Regions from separate parts of the Homo sapiens genome. Here regions 1, 2, 4 and 5 are each reported to be linked to region 3. The links are microRNA targets in miRTarBase. Many come from high-throughput screens and were not tested one by one. Region 3 holds a microRNA gene; each other region holds the end of a gene's coding sequence.

Region 1 (3,000 bases), not on the chromosome of region 3:
TTCAAATTTCCTTAGTTTTTATCTAATGTGCTTTTTTCTTTTCCAAGATACCACATTACATTTAGTTGTCATGTCTCCTTCAGCTCCTCTTGGCTGTGATAGTTTCTCAAACTTCCCTTGTTCTTGAGGATTTTGACTCCTTTTGAGGAGGACTGGTCAGCTATCTTGTAAAATGTCCATCTGCTGAGATTCATCTCATATTTCACAACTAGAGTGAGGTTATAGGTTTTGGGAATATCAGAGGTAAACTGCAATTTTCATCACATCATATGAAAGGTAACACTCTCAACATGACTTACCTCTCTTTTGACTTTGATCGCCTTCTGAGTAGTGAGGTACCTCTCGCTGAGTTTGTCAGGTTTCTCCACTGTAAATGCTACTCTCCCTGTACCACCTGTACTTTGGATTCTTTGGAAGGAAGTCACTATGTGCTGTCCATTCTTATAGGTGTGTAGTATCTTATTGTTTTCCTTGCTTGTACTTTTAAGTTACATGATGTGTATCTAGTAATACATCAGCAGTACCTGGGGATCTTTTTCTCTTGCTTGTGCCAATTCTTGTTCATGTTTTAATGAACAAAAAATGGTCTTTTTTGCATACCTGATTGTTTGATTGTATGATGAGCACTGTGGTACTTTTAGAGTATATAAAATAACATTTTCTTCCTCCAGAGAAGATTTTCATTTACCTGGTGCTTGAGCTACCTTAATCTAATTTCAGGGTTTGAACTTTTTCTATCTACCCAGACAACTTGAAGCAGGGCTGCTTTATGTACAACTCACATGTACTTTTAAGATCCAACCCTCTGAGGTCACAATTCTAAATGTAGGGTGGTTGCAGACCCCTTGTCTTCCAGCCCTTTGAGGCTGTCAATAGCACTGTTCCACTTCTCAGCTGCCCTTTCCAAGTCATCAAGTGCTCCTGGGCAAAACAGCTCCAAATGTTGGGCTTTGTAGTGAGAATTTCTCTCTTCTCCCAGATCTTAACCTGGCAATTCCTCACTATCTTATTAGTTTTTTAATGTTTGGGGTTAATATTATTTTATTTCTTTTTTTCCCCCATCACAGAAATCTGCCTATTGTTTTATTTCATCCACATATTCTAGCCTTCTGTTTTGGGAGGTTTGTCTGTATCACCTAATACACTGTTAGGAGTGAAAACTGGGTCCTGGGTTCCTTTTGCTTCACCCCTCACACTCCAGATCTTTCCCACTGGCTTTAAAAAGTTACAGTTAATATAGCTTTATAATTTACATTTTTGGAAAGAAATAGTGACAAAAAGCAAGAATCTTGACTGCATTCTCCTTCAAGGTTAAAAAGAAGCCTCTGACTTACCAGCCATGGAGTCACTAATCTAAAAAATTATACTACTTCCTTGGCCAGAACTACTATACCTAACCACAGAATACTCCATAATTCTTATACAAAGATAATTTTATTAATGAAAAGATCACACAAAACAAAGTTTTTGTATTCAAAGTTGTCTGTTTAAAATGTGGAAAAGGTAATATTTACAACATTTCCCATACAGTACATAGTTTTTGTGCCTTAACAGAATGCTAAATAGAGAAAAAAACCAAAAGCAAATGCTAAATTGAGAGAAAATCAAAAGCATCAGAAAATCTTGCCCAAAGAATAATACTTAATAGGAAACAAAATTAAGAAAACTCCTTAATATTTTAAAGTATGTTGTATAAAAACGTTGTGTCTTGTTTATTAAAACTACCTTTTTTCCATTTGATTGGCACTAATATCGCTATCACACTTTTTAATGTTCAGCAAAATCCTAGTGAGCTGCCGAAATGAATTCTACAAAATGTCTGAGAAAGGTACTGTATAATACAAAATGTAATATTCTAAATGTTAAAAAACAAAAGTTAAAACAAAAAATATAAGCAACTGTAAGTGGTTATAATACAATCAATGGGTGGTCATGAAACATTAAAAAAGGGAAGTCAATTGCACTTGGCCTAATATACAAAAGACTAACATTTTGTCTACTAACCCTTTAGGACATTTTATTTTAAATATGCAGAAGGATCAGTGAGCAGCATAATACAATCAATAGTGGACACTCTTTGAGTAAGCACCTTATTTCAGTTACATAATTTAGATCTGTGAAATTCCTAAAACGAGACTATAAAAATCACACATTTTAGATGGTAAGGTATCAATAAGTGGGTTTTTAAAGTTAAATTCCTATTATAAGACTTTTTGGTATATCTTTTTTTACAGTATAAAAGAAGACTATTTTACAATTTTCTTAGAAATTCAGTGTAAAAGCTACCAAAGTGCTAAAATATCACAATAGCATGATAAAAATACTTGAATAGGATTTCAAAAAAGTTCAAATACATATAAGCTTATTTTCAAATATGTATAAAAAGATACAAGGATAAGATTTAAATACTTCAGCAAAGAAATATCTTGATTTTATATCAAAAAAGTAAAATAGCATAGTACATCTTAAAATACTCTTACCAAGAGTAGAATCTTCATAAATAGAAAAGGAAGATTCCTCTAACTCTGTCCTCCCACACTATTAAAAAAATATTATTAACCTGCACATTTTCTGTTTTCAGGTATATTGTTGTCATTAACCTTTGTGTGAAATGAGTCATATTATTCTTGAACTCTATTTTTTCCAGTATAACAGTAGGCAATGCAACTTTAAGTGCAAAAGAAGAATGTAACAGTGATTCTTACAAAACAGTGCATAGGTCACTTCCAGTGTAACACAAATTTGCTTCTGAGTAACGAGAGAAAATGTTCTTCAAGTATCTGAATGACAACCACCTCCCTGCTCTTTTCTCACTCCTGAAACCGGGTGAACAAGCAGAGATGTGGAACCTTTGAGGCTGCTTGGTTCTGAAGAACTGGGGACCTGCAAATTGTTGCTCTGTGCCAGGCCAGTGTCAGTAATATCACTCTTTGGACTAATCCTAGATAAAAGAAAAAAAGTTGACACACACACATCCACAAACACAAATATGATGCCATT
Region 2 (3,000 bases), not on the chromosome of region 3:
CCTGAAAAGCCGGTATTTTCACTTCATGCTGACAACGGGAAGGCAATTCCGAGTGGTCACTTTTGGGCACTGCGGAGTCTCTGATATGTAGGAATTTTCTACCACATCTTCTTCCATCACAGATGTAAAAAGAATCCACAACTAGGAGGCTGAATTTTTATTTTGGAAAAAAGCAAAAAACAAAAATTTCAAGACCAATCAAGATGCACTGAGACACTGCTTAAATCTAAGCTGCCAAGCTGTGTTGACGTTCCTGGTGGAAATACCACGGATACACACCCACCACAAATGACCTCCTCAAATTCCACTTTCTCCATTAGAAAAATCAAGGAATGCAACTCAGAAATAACATTACATCCTGCATTTTATTCAATTCCATATGACAAAAATAGTAACCTAGACTAAGACATCCATTTCAGTCAGCAGATGTGTCAAGCCACAAGATTTAATAATAAAAAATATTGGGTCTAGGTAACAATCCCCAGCTGCTCAGAGAGGTCCCAGCCCCGCATGGCATTACAGTATAAAAATAGTGTCTCTCTTCACCATGCAGAGGGATGGCCTAGCCCTGCACACAGGAGGGTCAGTCTCACTGTACCTTCATGAGCCATCTTATTTACAACACTTTACATTTCTCTTTAGTTATATACACATCCTTTTGGGAGAAGAGAGAACACTATATGGTACCAAATACTAACCAAAAACAAACAAACAAAAAAACCACACACACACACACACCAAAAAGGACACAGATAAATAATGAAAACATTCAACTGCTGAAACACAGTGACCTTAAGCCACCTCAGTTTTCTCTGCCTAATGCTTGAGACACCCCGAGCCCTCATCCCGTGAGAAGAGGTGGCATGGTGGGGCGAAGTTACATCTCATCACCGTGGAAAACAGAGCTGTAGAGTTCAGTGTTGATTTCCAATAGAAATAAACAGCTAATGAGTCTTTGATACTTTTTGTTTAGTGACACGCTGGCACAAACAGCCCATCCTCTTACAATGATTGTTGATGCTGCTGTGGTTGTTAGGAGAAGATTGTTCTATTTTTCTGTCTCGACCGAGAAGACTTCACTGTCTGATTCTTTCTTCAGGGGCATGCAACTCCTTGCAGTTACCCAGCTACCAGAGCATCTCTTGAACAATTTTGTTGTTGGAAGTTCATAGTGTCAGACGCCAGCACACTTGCAACGCACGAAAATGAGGTAGTTCACGACGCCGTGTTTGTGCTGCCTCGGCCGCCCCAGCCTCCGGGGCCCTCCTGGCTGGATGCAGCTCAGCCATCAGCGTCAGGCTGTGTTCTGAAAAATCAGAGGACACTGTGCTTTGCTTTCATCTGAGAAGATAATAAATAAATCAGGAACTCGGAAAATTTCAAAGTCATGACTGATTGTACTGCCTGATACTTGCCATTTCTCTTGGGTTTACTGTACATGTGACCAGTGCCACCAGGCAGCCACAATCTTGTCTGTGGGTGAGAGAGAGAGACAGACCCGCTTACATGAAAATCAGACCTGCAGAAGGTTATCCTAGTTCCTTCCTGGCTTGTACTGACGTCATAGTCCTAGGATGAATTCACCAAGGTTTCGTTAGGGGGCGGTCACAGTTTTAAAGTGGGCTTTGTGGAAAAGTTAAATAAATCATTTTAATTTAAGAAACGGCAGGCCCTACTTTACTGAAAAGCTGACAAGTCTTGGTGGCTTTTCAAGTGGCAGAGATTTCTAATATTGTTTGACCATAAGACAAAACAAGGAACTGTAACAGTTTTCCCATTTTCCTTAAACTGAAGTACTATTTATAAAATACTTTACATTTTTTTAAATTTTCAAATTATAGACAAACCTCCCTAATACAAAATACTAAAAGTGCAATAGTATAAATTAAGAGTTTGCAACCACATTATACAAACATTACCTTTTTATTGTACAGCTTTGATAATGTGAAATATTTTCTCACAACTGTTTATAATGTTGTGAGTCATTTACGGTGATGTTTGTCTGTAACTCGTTCCCCAGTTATTGGGCTACAGACCACACTAGAAAACAACTGTCCACATAGCAGCTACAAACATTTAAATTAAAAAAAAAAAAAAAAAAGGCTTATTACTGACAGGTACTTGCACACGAAAAGCATGCTATCTTTCCCAACAGAACTTCACAATTTTGCCTGCATTGAAATAATCCACTTATTTATAGTAAAACAAATCTTGCTTAAAAAAAAAAATCACACAGCCAGATGTATTCTGCAGTACAAAAGCTTCGTTTAAGGTCGGGGCTATTATATTGTCTGTTACCCGCATTATCTTAACATCATAAATACTACAGACGAAGATAGTGTCATGATACACAGCATTGGGAGTACTAAACCACGTCTTTAACATGAAGAGTTCTAAAAAACACCGTTCAAGTGTCTAACTAATTCAAAAGAAACCATCAAATGAGTTTCACTGGAATACCGCAGAGAACCCCTTTCTCCCTCGGAGAGATTATTAGGTTTCAGGAGAAAGGAAGTGGACATGGTCTGAGCTCTTTCTGTTCCTAAGGCGGTTTTCCAAGCACTTTTTTTTTTGAAGGAAGCTTATTTAAAAGATTGCAGAGTTCTCGAGAACAGTCAGGCTTGCTGTTGAAGGGAGCGCCATGCAGCGCTTACAAGACCACCTCTCGGCAGCCGCACAAAGTGTTTTCTGCTATGGGTGAAAGTGTAATGAGAACCGAGGCAAGAAAGGTCGGAGGCCTGATGCTCCAACTTCAAAACGTGGGCCTGGGCAGGGCAGATGAGCGAGTCACTGGCTAGTTGATACCAATCTCCTTGTTATCCTCGATAAACCGCGTGAATGGGCGGCTGGCTGCTGTTTCTGAGCTCGCTTTGTCCAAGCTGACGATGGGTGGGCTACTGCCAGTGCGTGCTTTGTCCATCCCACTGGCCATGCTGCCCAGAGGGGGGAGGGCGCTGCCCCCAAGACTCACGGGGAGCTGGGGGATGCCGCCGTTCTGGA
Region 3 (3,309 bases):
GACAGAAAAATAAAGATGCATTTAGTGGCCCTGTTTGCATGTTTTCTGGAATCCAGAATAAAACGCCTGAAAAGGACCATCTCCAGTTCCTTGCTTCAAAGGCTCAGCAGGTTAGCCTTGTTCATCAAGGGACAATCCTCCCGAGTTTTGTTCTCAAACAGAAAAAGCAATGCCTACTAGACATACCTTATACTTAACCAAGAGAATTGGACTGGATTTCCAGAGAACAGCAAATGGATTCTGAGCCAAGTGTTCATTTGAGTTCCAGTGCGGAGACACACAGTCCCATTGGAAACATCCAAAATGTGATCTAAGATGTTGAACTATATACATTGTCGCACACACAAACATCCTCCAGGATAGACCACAGGCTAGGTGGTAAAAGCTCCTCAATAAAATTTGAACAGGAATACACAAGTACCAGTTGGGTGTGGTGGCTCATACCTCTAATCCCAGCACATCAGGAGGCCAAGGCAGGAGATTCACTTGAGCTCAGGAGCTCAAGACCAGCGTGTACAACACGGTGAAACCCTGTCTGTAAAAAAATACAAATGTAGGCCAGGTGTGGTGGTACATGCCTGTAGACACTAATTCAGGAGGCTGGGGTGGGAGGCGAAGGTTGCAGTGAGCCAAGACTGAAACACTGCACTCCAACCTGGGCGACTGAGCCAGATCTTGTTGCAAAAAAAAATTTAAAAGAACACACAAGCAAAAACCACCCCAAAGTGATATCAGTCATCTCTGTGTGTAGAAGAGTATTTTTTGTGTATATAATTATATATATGGCTATATGATGAAATATACATCATATATAATATATATATACACACAAACACACCCATATATATATTTTTTTTTTTGAGACAGAGTCTCTCTCTCTATATAAATATATATGTATATATATATTTTTTTTTTGAGACAGTCTTATTCTCTCGCCCAGGCTGGAGTGTGGTGGCGTGATCTTGGCTCACTGCAACCTCCATCTGTCCGTTCAAGTGATTCTCCTCCCTCAACTTCCCCAGCAGATGGGAATACAGGCGTGCGCCACCATAGCTGGCTAATTTTTTGTATTTTTAGTAGAGACAGGGTTTCACCATGTTGGTCAGGCTGGTCTCAAACTCCTGACCTCAAGTGATCCACTCGCCTCAACCTGCCAAAGTGTTGATATTGCAGGCATGAGCCACCGCTCATGTCGTATACACACAAAAACTGCTCATATACTCATGCGCCTGGCTGTACATCATTTATTTTCCAGACCCTATCTCAAAAAAAAAGAAAGTTCCATATACTGTATGCTCACATAAAGAATTACTCCTACACATAAATGTTTGCTCCACACATAAGAAATGAATGGAGTGACAGAGATCACCATGGCCCCTGTGCAGAGGTGATGCCCAAATTCATGATGGGTCTCATATTGAAAATTAAGATCAAAGGCCGGGTGCAGTGGTTCATGACTGTAAACCCAGCACTTTGGGAGGCCGAGGCAGGTGGATTACGAGGTCAGGAGATGGAGACCATCCTGGTCAACACGGTGAAACCCCATCTCTGCTAAAAATACAAAAATTAGCCGGGCGTGGTGGCATGGGCCTGTACTCCCAGCAACACAGGAGACTGAGATGGGAGAACCACTTCAACCCGGGAAGGGGAGATTGTAGTGAGCAGAGATCGTGACCCTGCAAAGAGGACCACCTGAGCCCAAGAGAGCTAGGTTGGAAGTGCCACTGCTCTCCAGCCTGGGCAAAAGAGACCCCGTCTTAGAAAACAAACAAACCAGGAACAAAAGCCCACCCTCATCCAAGTCTGATGATAAGCACGCTCTGCAAATGTATTGCCGAGATCAGCATGAACGTTAACGTTGCTTTTCTCAAACTGTAATCCTCTAAAAAGATGCACTTTCTTTTCTTTCAGACAACAGAAAGCGCTTCCCTCTAGAGGGTCACAGGCTGAGATCTTCTTGCTCCAGCACCATTGATTTTTTGTTGGAATTTTCCTTGACCAGGTTAAAATGGACACAAAAATAAAGATGCATTTATTGGCCCTGTTTGCATGATTTCTGGAATCCAGAACATAAACCCCTATCAGGGCCATCTCCAGTTCCTTGTTTCAAAAAGCAATGCCGACTATACATACCTTATATTTAACCATGAGAATTGGGCTGGATTCTAGAGAACAGCAATAGATTTTGAGCTAAGTGTTCACTCGAGTTCCAGTACAGTGACACACAGTCCCGACGGGGGCATCCAAAATGGAATCTACGATGTTGAAGAATATGCATTGTCACACACACAAACACCCTCCAGGAGAGACCACAGGCCAGGCTGTAAAAGCTCCTCAATAAAATGAGCAGAAACACACAGGTACAGGTGAGGTGTGGTGGCTCACACCTCTAAACCCAGCCCTTTAGGAGGCTGAGGCAGGAGTATCACTTGAGTTCAAGAGTTTGAGACCAGCCTGGGCAACATGGTGATACCTCATGTGTAGAGAAAACAGAAAAGTTAGCCGGGCGTGGTGGTGTGCGCCTGTAGACAGCTACTCAAGAGGCTGAAGTGGCAGGTGGAGGTTGCAATAAGCTGAGATGGCACCACTGCACTCTAGCCTGGGTGACAGACCCAGACCTTATCTAAAAAAAAAACAAAAACATACACACACAAACAAAAAATTACCCAAAGTGATACGAGAGTATTCTCTGTGTATAGAAGAGTGTTTTGTGTGTATATGACTATGTTACATGTATAATAAGAATATGATAAAATATATATTTTTGAGACCGTACATCAATAAAAATTAAGTTCCATATACTATGTGCTCACATGAAAAATAATTCCTACACATATGTGCTTGCATTGGCAGCACACATTAAAAAAAATTGGAGGCTAGGCTGGGTGGCTTACACCTATAATCTCAGCATTTTGGGAGGCTGAGGCAGGCGGATCACCTGAGGTCAGGAGTTGGAGACTAACCTGGCCATCATGATGAAACTGCATCTCTGCTAAAAATGCAAATATTAGCCAGGCGTCGTGGCACGTGCACCTGTAATCCCATCTACTTGGGAGGAGAGGTTGCAGTGAGCAGATAACATGCCACTGCGCTCAAGCCTGGGCCAGAGACAGAGACTCTGTTTCAAGAAAAAAAAAAAAAGCAAGCACGGGACCACTTGAGCCCAAGAGATCTAGGTTGGAAGCGCCACCGCACTCCAGCCTGGGCAACAGAGACCCCATGATGCAAAACAACTAAACAAAAACAGAACCCCAACATCATGCAAGTCTGATGATAAGCACGCTCTGCAAATGTGTTACCAAGATCAGC
Region 4 (3,000 bases), not on the chromosome of region 3:
TAGTGTCCAGAATATCCTTGAGAAAACATGTAAGTTCACCCAAGAGGATGAACAACTTGTGCAGGAAAAGATGGAAGCTCTGAAAGCCACCCTTCCCTGCTCTGGCCTGGGCATCTCAGAGGAAGAGCGAGTGCAGATTGTCAGTGCCATAGGTTATCCTCGTGGTCACTGGTTCAAGTGCCGCAATGGCCATATCTATGTGATTGGCGATTGTGGGGGAGCCATGGAGAGGGGCACGTGTCCTGACTGTAAGGAAGTGATTGGTGGCACAAATCATACTCTGGAAAGAAGCAACCAGCTTGCTTCTGAAATGGATGGAGCCCAGCATGCTGCCTGGTCTGACACGGCCAACAACCTGATGAACTTTGAGGAGATCCAGGGGATGATGTAGGAAGATGGTACACCACTGCCTTTTGCCCTCGCCACTGAATGACTGGGGCCAGCTCCCTAATGAAGGAACTGAAGTTTGTTTTTTATTATCATCCTTTTTAGGCTGGGCGCAGTGGCTTACGCCTGTAATCCCAGCACTTTGGGAGGCCGAGGCAGGCGGATCACGAGGTCAGGAGTTCGAGACCAGCCTGACCAACATGGCGAAACCCCGTCTCTACTAAAAATACAAAAATTAGCTGGGCGTTATGGCGGGCGCCTGTAATCCCAGCTACTTGGGAGGCTGAGGCAGAAGAATCGCTTAAACCCAGGAGGCGGAGGTTGCAGTGAGCTGAGATCATGCCATTGCACTCCAGTCTGGGCGACAGGAGCAAGACTCTGTCTCAAAAAAAAAAAAATCATTCTTTTTAGTCTTAGCACCTACTTAAGGATCCACTTTTAGGGCTCACCCACATTTGTTTCTAGATTTACCCCTGCGCTAGAGTAAGCACTTTATCTCCAGAACTGAGAGCAAAGTTAACAAATCTCACCCCTTCTCTCCTGCAAATTAGTGGACAGACTCCCTGGAACATGTTTGGGGCTTCCACCTAGGGCCACCTAGTGGTATCTCTGGGTCTTTACTTGGTCAGATGTTTATTCTACATTGTTCCCCAGGAACAGAGTATGAGCTCATTGATGCAGACCGATTCTAATTGCCAGGCCCTAATTTGCAGACTAACTCTCATAATAAACAGAGGCCCATAGTTGTTTATGAACTGCTTATCCCTTAAAGGAGCACAAGAACCCCTCCCTGCCCTCCTTGGGCACCCTGCCTCCAGGAGATGGAGGCACGTGATAAGACAAAAGACTGCACCAACTCACCCTGACACAGTTACATAGTCACTGAGAGTGGGGAAGATGGGACAGCCCACATGCTGCATAAGATGGGCCTTATGCAGCAGGCCCAGGTCGTCATTAAGGAGTGACCCCTTTCCTGTAACCTGCACTTTGGGATGGTAGAAGTTTCTTTACCTGCTGACAGGTTTGGTGGCACTGCTGGTTACCCCTGGGCCCTGAATGGAGCTAAAATCACATTTGGTACCAGCAGCACCTATCCCAAGTGTGATCCTTCATCCCAACACTCCCTCTTGGAGCTGTTCCCTGGGTAGAGCTAGCATGCCAGCAGCTTCTGCAGGCTCCAAACCCAGGCCAGAAGCCAGACCCAGGCCTGCTGCCTGCATCTGCATTCCCTCCTTCCAGTGTTCCTTAGAACAGACATTTAGGTATCTCAGGTCCTTTCTAAGTGTCCCTTTCCTATGTATGCATTTCCTTTTTTTGTCTTTACTATGCACTTTAGCTTATAAAGCCAATTAAAAACAATGATTGAGAAAATCAGTGGTCCACGTGTATCCTCAATTTTCAGAAGCAACTCAGCCAAAGACAGTGAAGACGGGCACAGGGAAGGCACTGTCTACAGTGAGGCTGTGATTTTGTTTTTGTGATACAGGATTTTTATTTAGCTGGTGAATGAATCATTTTTACCCACGGTAAAAAGAACATTTTTTCAGCCTGTACAAAAGGGTATACCTGAAGTTTCTTTCTCCAGAGGCAAACCCTGTTAACTTCCTGAGTCCTCCCAGAGAGAACTTATGCACATGCAATACACATCCCTTAGGCCAGGCATGGTGGCTCACATCTGTAATCCCAGCACTTTGGGAGGCCACATTGGGCAGATGGCCTGAGCCCAGGAGTTCAAGACCAGCCTGGGCAACAGGGCGAAACCATCTCCACAAAAAAAAAAATACAAAAATAAGCCAGGTGTTGTTGCTTGCACTTGTAGTCCTAGCTACTCCAAAGGCTGAGGTAGGAGGATCACCTGAGCCTGGGGAGGTCGAGGTTGCAGTGAGCAGTGAAGCCACTGCACTCCAGCCTGGGCAAGAGTGAGACCCTGCTTCAAAAAAAGGAAAAGGAAAAGAAAAAGTACACAGTTCTGCACTTGGCTTTTTTAGCCTAATAACCTACTTTCTGTAAAATCCAGTAAGACAGTAGTCTGAACTGTACTCCATCACACAGTTGTGCCATCATTTTCTGAATTGGACCCTCTGTTGGTGACTTAGGTGCAGCCTGAATGAATAGCTTTGAACACACTCTTTAGTATCTAGGGTATGTGCTACTGGATAACTTATAATTTTTAAGCTGGGGGTAGGGTGGTAAGTACTCCCTGAAATTATAACAAACTATACAGTTTTCCAGGTGGGGCCCCACAGCTTTCATCTCATTCTGAGTCAGAAAAGGATGAGAACCGACGTTCTTACAGGATCAAAACTGGTTTTTGGCCAGGTACAGTGGTTCAAGCCTGTAATCCCAGCACTTTGGGAGGCTGAGGTGGTGGATCACCTGAGGTCAGGAGTTCAAGACCAGCCTGGCCAACATGGTGAAACCCTGTCTCTCCTAAAAATACAAAAATTAGCCAGGCATGGTAGCGGGCACCTGTAATCACCGGTATTTGGGAGGCTGAGGCAGGAGATTCGCTTGAACCCGGGAGGTGGAGGTTGCAATGAGCCAAGATCGTGTCATTGCACTCCAGCCTGGAGGACAAGAGACTCTGGTTTTTGCAGCAAGTAACTAATTTAT
Region 5 (3,000 bases), not on the chromosome of region 3:
ATGTTTTTTGAATAGGACTCTGACCCCTTAACTAAAGATAAGGTTTCCATGGTTAGGTGCCGTTTCTCCCCACCATGCCCTCGGCTTCAAGGGTAAAAGGTGCTGCAAGGAGTTAGGATAGGTGCTGTCCTAGTACAGGGTCTGCCTCATACAGGGAAAGCTTAGTCTCACGTAATCTTGCTGGGCAGGATAGCCCTGTACAGCCCGAGTGGCAGAAAACATCATACACGATGTCCGTCAGTTTGCTGGCAAGAAAAGCTGAATCCAACCCTCATCCCATTTGCTCAGCAGGTAATTTTTTGTGTTTCTGATCTGTTTTTGCAAAAGAAACCAGAAATTCTCTGTACTTGAGTTCCTTCAGGTGAACAGTTAGCCAGGAAACCAGTCCTCTTTGGAGGCTATTTTGGAGTCTCATCTTTTCTAGACATTTTATGATTGATACAATTTTTTAAAAAATCCCATTCTATGTGGTTTTTTAAAAAAACTGGCTCTCACACAAATTGAAACTACTAATTTACCAGTTTCACATTATATCCACACAAGACCTATGCACTAACTATGCTTTTTCTTAATGACTTTGCTCTAATAAGCTATTACTGGTTTGCAGTAACTTCATATAAAGCTTTCAAGGCTTCCCCCATTAGACACGAGATTTCAAAAAATGGAGAGCAGACTTTTCCCATTTGTACAATCTGGAGAGAACTGACCCCTTCCCCGCCGCCCCCCCAAAAGATAATAATCTCTGCTAACTCTTCAGCATTTCCTAAAGCAAATACTAGAGATGATTCAAAAAATCCAGGCAAAGTAGAAGCAATATATTTTGCAACAATTATTCTTTCAATAAAGGACTTGTAAATTCTCTCCCACACCACGTTAGACAGGTAAGTGACGTCACTTCCAAATTTCAACTGTTACATAGAAGATCCAGAATGTCAACACCACTTGCAATCTCCACAAGGTTACAAACAACACATACACCTTCAATTCAAAATACCTGAATGAAAGGTTTCATCCCAATTATGGGGAAAAAACTTCCCATCTCACAGGCTGGTTAGAAACTGGTTCTGAATACAGCGTAACATACACAGCAATTCAGATCTTAAGAAACTCAACTGTTGCCAGTTAATACAGTAAGTAGAACTTTATTCAGCTTCACCCTTATTTCATTTTTCCATATATTTAAGTGATCCTTTCTATACCTTTTAAGGTAAGCAATCATCTCAAGATTATCAGACATCTAAAGAAAACTTTGGTAAACTGGACTATAGTAATCGTATGAGAAAAAAATAGCTCAAGATTCCTAACTGCTACAAGAATAGTGTTGATGGGATCAAACTCCTAATTATCCTAATAGACCTAATTCATTTTTAAATGTGGAAAATATGCAAGATAAATTAAATGCTTAGTTAAAAAAAAAAAAAAGTTTCACCAACTGTTCTCCATTACTGAGAAGCCCCCACACTGCCCCACTGTGCATATTCCTAGTATTTCATCCATGTCCTGCTCTGCTGTGCTGCCCTACAAAAAAACCCTCCCGGGGGGGAAAAAAAAACAAAAAAACGGTGTAGTGTGAACTGCTGAAGAACTTAAATGTTCAAGACATCTTTAAAGTCTAGGAGTACCTGAAAACTGTGGGTAAACATGGACCATTTTCCTTGCGTATCAACTTCACACTAAGCATCTAACATTCAAACAAAAAAGTGCAAAATTTGTAATTATTTTTAACAGCAAGAATTCCCAACCTCCTGCCATCCACTGATGTTCCATCCTGTTTGAGGTTCTACATTAAAACATGATTACTTTTGCCATAAAAGAAAATATTACCCTTAAAATATCTATTTGATATGTACAAACCACATTTTTATTCTGACAGGTCACAGATTTTGAGCAAGTGCTTCCCTAGGTGACCCTACCTAGCCAATATGAAGGTGGAGCAAACACTGCTTTAGCTTAACTGCACTAATATTTACACCATGTAACCCTTCTAACCAAATAGAATACTGCTGACCTGTCATCATCAGTTTGTGTGACATGGCTCAAATGTACAAAAATAAACATAGGGAGAAATTAACCCAATAGATTTCAAATTAAGTGATAAAAGCAAGGCAATTCAAATATTAACATGGCATAAAACTTCCCTACTTTAGTGGTTTCCAAATGCTATTTATAAACAAGGGATGAGTTCACTTGCTTAGATATTTGAAATACAACTTTATTCTGATTCTAAACGAAAAGGAATGGGAATGACAGTAACAAACAAGATTTCACCACTGAATATTGTGATGTGACTGCAGCAGTCTTATATATGAAACTCAAGGAATCAACTGCGTTCCAAAACAGCTAAATATGCAGGTCCAAACAATGAAGTTATTTTTTAAACTGCCACATTCACTCCGAAGCCCACTCATCTCCTTCAGCATCCCACAGATGAAGCACATGTTCCGCTTAGCTAGATAATAATGAGGTGGCACACACGCTGCACCGCTGACATCACAGGACAGCTGCCTATAAAACTAGACTTCTGACGCTGGGCTCCAGCTTCATTCTCACAGGTCATCATCCTCATCCGGGAGAGCAGTTGTCTGAGCAACCTAGACGAAGAGATGGAAAAACGTTAACACTCCAGATCAAAACTGCCAGGAATAAACAAGCCAAACCGAACAATCTGAACAGCAAAGTGGCCACAATACCTCTAAGTCGTGCTCATACTGTGCTGCCAAAGCTGGGTCCATGACAACTTCTGGTGGGGCGAGAGCAGGCATGGCAACAAATTCCAAGTTAGGGTCTCCAATGAGCTTCCTAGCAAGCCAGAGGAAGGGCTTTTCAAAGTTGTAGTTACTTTTGGCAGAAATGTCGTAGTACTGTTTAAAAGAAAGGTAAAATTACTTTTTAAAATTCATTATTAAGATGACGATTTTTCTAGGACATTGCAAGATAAGAAAATGTTAAGATTCTTGGCAAGGCATGGTGGCTCATGCCTGTAATCCCAGCACTTTCGGG

Evidence for each region. The annotated mature microRNA hsa-miR-519c-3p reads AAAGUGCAUCUUUUUAGAGGAU and lies in region 3 at 1,878-1,899, opposite strand. An mRNA with a match to its seed (bases 2 to 7 or 8) in the 3' UTR can be bound and repressed. Matches are read on the target gene's strand: a 7mer-m8 pairs with bases 2 to 8, a 7mer-A1 pairs with bases 2 to 7 and ends in A, and an 8mer does both.
Region 1: the mRNA of FZD6 is a reported target of hsa-miR-519c-3p. Seed matches in the 3' UTR shown: 8mer at 2,671-2,678.
Region 2: miRTarBase lists SALL3 as a target of hsa-miR-519c-3p. Seed matches in the 3' UTR shown: 7mer-m8 at 1,869-1,875.
Region 4: miRTarBase lists ZNFX1 as a target of hsa-miR-519c-3p. Seed matches in the 3' UTR shown: 7mer-m8 at 1,369-1,375 and 7mer-m8 at 1,714-1,720.
Region 5: the mRNA of RAN is a reported target of hsa-miR-519c-3p. Seed matches in the 3' UTR shown: 7mer-m8 at 1,699-1,705.

Annotation. Positions count from the first base shown.
Region 1 is chr8:103,331,282-103,334,281 of GRCh38, reverse strand. FZD6 (frizzled class receptor 6) reads right to left here. Exons shown (of 7, transcript NM_003506.4): 7 at 1,416-2,941. The coding sequence ends at 2,773. Among named protein-coding and RNA genes, the nearest start is that of SNORD173, 24 kb to the right of the region's middle.
Region 2 is chr18:78,997,117-79,000,116 of GRCh38, reverse strand. It overlaps SALL3 (spalt like transcription factor 3), which reads right to left. Exons shown (of 3, transcript NM_171999.4): 3 at 1,148-3,000. The coding sequence ends at 2,795. Among named protein-coding and RNA genes, the nearest start is that of SALL3, 19 kb to the right of the region's middle.
Region 3 is chr19:53,685,112-53,688,420 of GRCh38, reverse strand. MIR519C (microRNA 519c) reads right to left here and starts at 1,952; the gene lies at 1,866-1,952. The region is part of intron 2 of LOC107985342 (a long non-coding RNA gene); the gene reads right to left.
Region 4 is chr20:49,244,658-49,247,657 of GRCh38, reverse strand. It overlaps ZNFX1 (zinc finger NFX1-type containing 1), which reads left to right. Exons shown (of 14, transcript NM_021035.3): 14 at 1-1,758. The coding sequence ends at 391. Among named protein-coding and RNA genes, the nearest start is that of DDX27, 27 kb to the right of the region's middle.
Region 5 is chr12:130,875,473-130,878,472 of GRCh38, reverse strand. It overlaps RAN (RAN, member RAS oncogene family), which reads right to left. Exons shown (of 7, transcript NM_006325.5): 6 at 2,691-2,861; 7 at 795-2,591. The coding sequence ends at 2,547. Among named protein-coding and RNA genes, the nearest start is that of RAN, 4.9 kb to the right of the region's middle. RefSeq lists a silencer at 1-69.